2 linked regions of the Homo sapiens genome follow. The protein of the gene in region 1 purifies or fractionates together with the protein of each later gene. This does not show direct contact. Each region holds a gene or a part of one and is shown on either strand. Other genes may lie near its edges. The genes, in order: DDX52 and NOL10.

Region 1 (3,732 bases):
ATACATAGTAAACTCACAATAAATATTTCTTAAACATAGATTTTGTTAGGAATACAGGCTTGATAACACAGTCCTTACCCTTACAATGTAATGTTAGAGATAAAGGAGCAAATAGAGTCACGCATCACTTAATGACAGAGATATGTTCTGAGAAATGCATCGTTAGGTGATATTGTCATTGTGTAAACATCATGTTGTTTACTTCCACAAACCTAGATGGTATAGCCTACCAGTACACCTAGGCTATATGGTATAGTCTGTTGCTCCTAGGCTACAAACCCGTATAGCATGTTACTGTCCTGCATGCTATAGACAGTTGGAACATGTAGACTTGTATAAACACTGCACACTTAACCTATACTAAATTTATTGAAAATATTTTTCTTGGCCAGGCGTAGTGGCTCATGCCTGTAATCCTAACACTTCGGGAGGCCTAGGCGGGCAGGTTGTCTGAGCTCAGGAGTTTAGAGACCAGCCCGGGCAACATGGCAAAACCCCATCTCTACTAAAAAAAATACCAAAAAAAGTTAGCCGGGTGTGGTGGCATAGTCCCGGCTACTCAGGAGTCTGAGGCAGGAGAATAGCTTGAACCTGTGAGGCGGAGGTTGCAGTAAGCCGAGATCGCGCTACTGCACTCCAGCCTGGGCGACAGGGCAAGACTGTCTTGAAAATAAACACACACACACACATTATATATATTATGTATTATATATATTAGATATATATTTTTTCTTCAATAAATTAACCTTAGCTTACTGTAACTTTTACTTTATGAGTTTTTTTGTTTTGTTTTTTTTTTTTTTTTTGAGAAACAGGGTCTGTTACCTAATTTGGAGTTTAGTGGCACAATCATGGCCCACTGCAGCCTTGACCTCTTAGACTCAAGTGATCCTCAAACCTCAGCCTCCCGAGTAGCTGGTACTATAGGTGCGGGCCACCAACACTCAGCTAATTTTTAAATTTTGTAGAGACGAGGTCTTGCTTGTTGTCCAGTTGGGTTTTTTAGATTTTTTTTTTTTTTTTTTTTTGGAGATGGAGTCTTGCTCTGTTGCCCAGGCTGGAGTGCAGTGGCATGATCTCGGCTCACTGCAACCTCTGACTCCTGGGTTCAAGTGATTCTCCTGCCTCAGCCTCCCGAGTTGCTGGGACTACAGGCATGCGCCACCACACCCAGCTAATTTTTGTATTTTTAGTGACAGGGTTTCACCATGTTGGCCAGGCTGGTCTCAAACTCCTGACCTGGAGTGAGCCACTATATCCGGCCTTTATAAACTTTTTTGATTCTTGTCATAACACTTAGCCTAAAATGCAAATGTACAGCTGTAGAAAAATACTTTATTTCTTTATATCCTTATTCTAGAAGCTTTTTTTCTATTAATTTTTGTTTGTTTGTTTTGTTTTACTATTTACTTCTAAAACTTTTTTGTTAAAAACCATGGCACAAACACACACATTATGCTAGGCATACAAAAGGTCAGGATCATCAGTCTCACTGTCTTCCACCCCCACTTCTCATCCCACCATTGTATCTGCTGTCTGTGGCTGACCAAAACATCATCATGTAGCACATGACTAGTGTGGCAAGTGCTCTGTTAGATGTAAGGCCATGATGCTAAAGCATCACAAGAGGGCATCTAACCCAGATTGGGGATGTCATGGAAGGCCGACATCCTGAGTTGAATCCTGCAAATGTAAAAACCAATAGGCAAAGAAGAGGAACAAAAAGGATTCCAGGACAAACTGAGGTCACATCTATGATCCTTGACTTTATTGTGTCTGTTTAAAGTATCTACAGTAACCTGTATCAACTTAGTCAGTGTATTAATACTAAATTTAGCTCCTTCAAAGCAGTTGGAACTATGTGCTACATAAATTTCAGCTTCACACAAGGAAGGGAAGGAGTGAAATTAGTGAACAGGCAGTTACAGCAAAAGAAAAAACATAAAAATTGAATAGCTGGCTCTGGTGAAATGAGCAAGGACTTTAGAGTCAAACTGGCCTGGATTTGAATCCTGATCCTCATTGCTTGTAGCTGTATGATCTGGACAAATGACAGTAACTGTTTCTAACCTTGATTTTCTCATCTGTAAGATGCCAATTGTAACTCCTAAGGATACTGAGGATTTTTTAAAATGCGTGTACAGTTCCTGACCAGTGGTTTGTGCCTAATAACTTATTACAAATTATTACCCAGTAAAAACCTTGAGACAAGAGTGAAAACGTAAAGCTAATTAATCCATTACTTGTTAGCAAGCAAACTACGTGCTTGAGAAAATTACTCAACTTTCATGTTTTACTTCCAGACAGTAGTTTGATTAAAAGAAAAAAAAAAATCACAGCCCAGGCATGTGGCTCACACCCTGGCACTTGGAGGCCGAGGTGGGAGCATAGCTTGAGCCTAGCAGTTTGAAACTAGCCTGGGCAACATAGATCCTATCTCTACAAAAAAAAAAAAAAAAAAAAAAAAAAAAATTGGCCCGGTGTGGTGGTGCATGCCTGTGGTCCCAGCTACTCAGGAGGCTGAGGCGAGAGGATCGCTTGAGCCAGGGAGGCTGAGGCTGCTGTGAGCCATGATCATGCCACTGCACTCCAGCCTGGACAACAGAGCAAGACCCTGTCTCAAAAAAAAAAAAAATCAGTAAAAAATATGCCGAAATAGCTTCAGAGTAATTATGAATTGCCTTCCAAAAACCACTGTTTTGCACTTGCCTGCAAGAATAGGAAAAACAAAAGGACTGTAAGGTGGCAGGATGGCAGAACCAAACAAGAGTAGTACACCTTGGAGTTTTTTCGAAATATGGGTTGGGTTTTTGGGCTCTTGGTTGATTTAAAATAAAATTTAAATGCCTTCAGCGTCTGTGATAGGTGCCAACATGAAGCTACCGAGTTCCAGAGAAAGAGGGGAGAGCTGATCACTCATCAGTGCTGCGAGACTATCAAAGGGCCCTTCAGGACCTATCTGTTCTTTGTGTGTAAAGAGTAACAATAAAAGAACACCAGTGTACCCACCGTATAGTTTAAAAATCAGGACTCAGCCTACTCTTTCCACTAACCGCGATCATGGTTTTCAAACGGAGGACCAACGGCGCTTTGCCACTGGGCCGCCAGCTGGGCCCTGCAGAGGGCCTACCAGACAATGAATCAGCTCCCTTGGAGAGGCGCCCGCGACCGCCCCACCAGCCCGAGAGCTAGAATTGAATCTGGGGGACCCCTGCGGCGCCGGGTCACGTGCCGTGGGCGCGCCACGCCTCCCCGAGGGCCGGGGGAGTCACGTGGGCGCGAGGCCCCGCCCCATCGCCCGGTCCGCGGCGAGGTGGGGCCTGGTGTTTGACCCGGAAGTGGCTGTGTTCAGCTGACAGCTGCTGATAAGGTGGCGGCGGCGAAGGCAGCGGCAGGTCGGGAGCAAGATGGCGCTGCGGCCAGGAGCTGGTTCTGGTGGCGGCGGGGCCGCGGGAGCTGGCGCGGGGTCCGCCGGGGGAGGCGGGTAGGTGTGAAGAGCCGGGCGGGAGCCCGCTGGCCTCCGCGGGGGCGGCGAGGGGCGCTTGGCAGTTATGGCAGTTTTCTCCAGCCCTGATCCTTTTCCTTGGAACTGGGCTGCGGGAGGAGGGTCATCCCCCAGGGACCCAGGCCGAAAGGGGCGTGTGGAGCCCAGGTGCTGGACGCTGGTGTTCCGGGATCAGTTGGGGGCGCCGGCCGCCTGGAATCGAGCGGGGAGCGAGCGCGCGCCCAGTG
Region 2 (2,361 bases), on another chromosome or scaffold:
CTAGTTTGTAAACAAAGATCTCTAAAAGGAAGTGGACACTCTAAGTGATATCATCTTCTTAAGGTGGCTCTTGTGTAGGCTCTTTTAAAACATCCCAGTGGTTGTGTGAGTGTGTTGGTTGAAAAACCAGTCTCCTACTTTGTAGGAGGCTGGTCTGTCAGGGCCCTTCTCTTGCCTGGGGTTCAGAATTTCTGCTTTTGCATTGATGGTAAAAGTTGGCCTTGGTCCTGCTGTTTCTGCCAGGGTAGCATTTGTCAGAGCAGAGTCCAGGCAGCCCCACCATGTCCCCTGGAGCCTGTGGGCAGCATTTCTCCTGGCAGCAGTTCTGAGATTGGTGGTGGTACTGTTGGCAGCCTGACGGTTACCAGAAAAGAGGTATAGAATTTTCTCTCTTTCCCTCTACTCATTTCATTTTCTCTTTTAGTCTGAACAGCAGAAGAAGCAACAGGAGGCTGAGAAACTGCATCGACAAGAAAGGAAAAGACTCCGTCGTTCGGCCGGACACCTGAAGTCAAGACACAAAAGAGGACGGTCGTTTCATTGATTTGGGAAGTGGTCCTACCTGTGATTAGGGAGGGGTACGTCTCCCCCAAACTGATCATCGTTAGGGTGTTAAACACAGACGAGGAAACACACGTTTTTAAAGTTCATGTACGTTCTTGTACACAGAGGTAAAGATTTGAAAACCTGTGCCTTGTGGGTTGGACTTTGAAGCTGGCCCCGCCGACGGCCACCGCACAGCCCCAGGGGTGTGCTTGCGAGTCGTTGCTCCCTGGAAACATTGTCCTTTCCCCACGGCGTTAATCATGAAAACCAGGCTGGGGTTTTTTTAATATTGTGAAATGTACACCATGAAATGAAAGGTTTATCCTGTGCCAGAAACCAAGGTTTATCATGCTCTAGGAACTTTTTTCTTACACTGCCTACCGCCATTCATGATTAAACCATCCAGAAATACCATCCCTGTTTTACCTGGTGTCTGTGTATTGCCTGTGTTTGTGTTTATAAGTTTATGCTGATAGGTTTGTTCGGCTTGTTTATGTATTAGTTTGGGATTTGTTTTTAAATAATTTATACCAAGAGAGTATAATCTAATGGTGCAGGTTGAGAGCATCCCAAATCCGAAAATCTAAAACTGTTTGAGCACTGTATTTATCTGTTCTTGCACTGCTATAAAGAACTACCTGAAACTGGGTAATTTATAAGTAAAGAAAAGAGGTTTAATTGACTCACAGTTCTACAGGTGGTACAGGAAGCATGGCTGTGGAGGCCCTGGGAAGCTTACAATCGTGGCAGAAGGTGAAGCGGAAGCAGGTATGTCCTGCGTGGCTAGAGCCAGAGGAGGAGGGCAAAGGGGCAGATGCTGCACACTTTCAAACACCAGATCTCCAAGAACTCACTAACACAGAATAGCAAGGGGGAAGTCTGCCCCCATGTTTCAGTCACCTCCCTCCAGGCCCCTCCTCCAACACCGAAGATTACAATTTGACATGAGATTTGTGTGGGGACACAGAGCAAAACCATATCAAGCACTGACATGACATTGGAGGAAAATGCTCATTAGAGCTTTTCAGGTTTTGGATTTTCAGATTTGGGATACTTGACTAGTAAATATAATACAGATATTCCAAAACACACAAAAAAACCAAAGTCTAAAAGACTTCTGGTCCCAAGCATTTCAGATAAGGGATACCCAACCTGTAATAATGGGAAACAAGCAGTAGAGGCTGTTGGTTAATCTTGGCACAAGTTTAATTACAGGTTTTTTTTTTTTCCTGTTTCTTAAGTACAGTCAAACATAAACTTACTGGAGGAAACATTTATAAAAATAAATATACTTTCATTTGAATAGCTTCTTTGAGAAAGACTCCAAGAAAATTTTTTTTTCATTAGTCAAACGGTGGTGTGCACTTGTAGTCCCAGCTACTGAGGCTGAGGTGGGTTGCTTGAGCCTGAGAAGTCGAGGCCAGCCTGGACGACAGAGCAAGACCTGCGTCTCAAAAAAAGAAAGAAGAGAACCAACTTTGGTTTCCTTAGTTTTTCCAGCTTTGATGTGATTTTGGAGGTGCCTTTATAGATTTTTAAGGTTCTTTATATACAACTGAAATAGTAACTCTTTGGACTGTGAATGATACAGCCTAATTTCGAATAGCATAAGCCGAGAGGCAGAATGCATTAATTTACATCACCATGCTTGGGACATGGAACTGGCCTCAGGAACACCTAGATCCATGGCTCCACGGTCAGTCAGCTAGCACATGCGCACTCTATCTCTGTTTCCCTCTTTCTCTCTCTCTCCTTCCCCTACTCCCTCCCTTCCTCCTCCTGTCTCACCATTGTTCCTTCTCTCTTCAGGCCTCC

Evidence for each region.
Region 2: the proteins of DDX52 (region 1) and NOL10 fractionate together in Homo sapiens (co-fractionation; one large-scale study listed by BioGRID). This does not show direct contact.

Annotation. Positions count from the first base shown.
Region 1 is NC_000017.11:37,609,031-37,612,762, reverse strand, and holds the end of DDX52 (probable ATP-dependent RNA helicase DDX52), read left to right. Parts: 3' UTR 1-3,024; downstream 3,025-3,732. Other genes in the region: SYNRG (synergin gamma), read left to right, coding at 3,408-3,484.
Region 2 is NC_000002.12:10,570,254-10,572,614, reverse strand, and holds the end of NOL10 (nucleolar protein 10), read left to right. Parts: intron 1-424; coding exon 425-544; 3' UTR 545-1,861; downstream 1,862-2,361.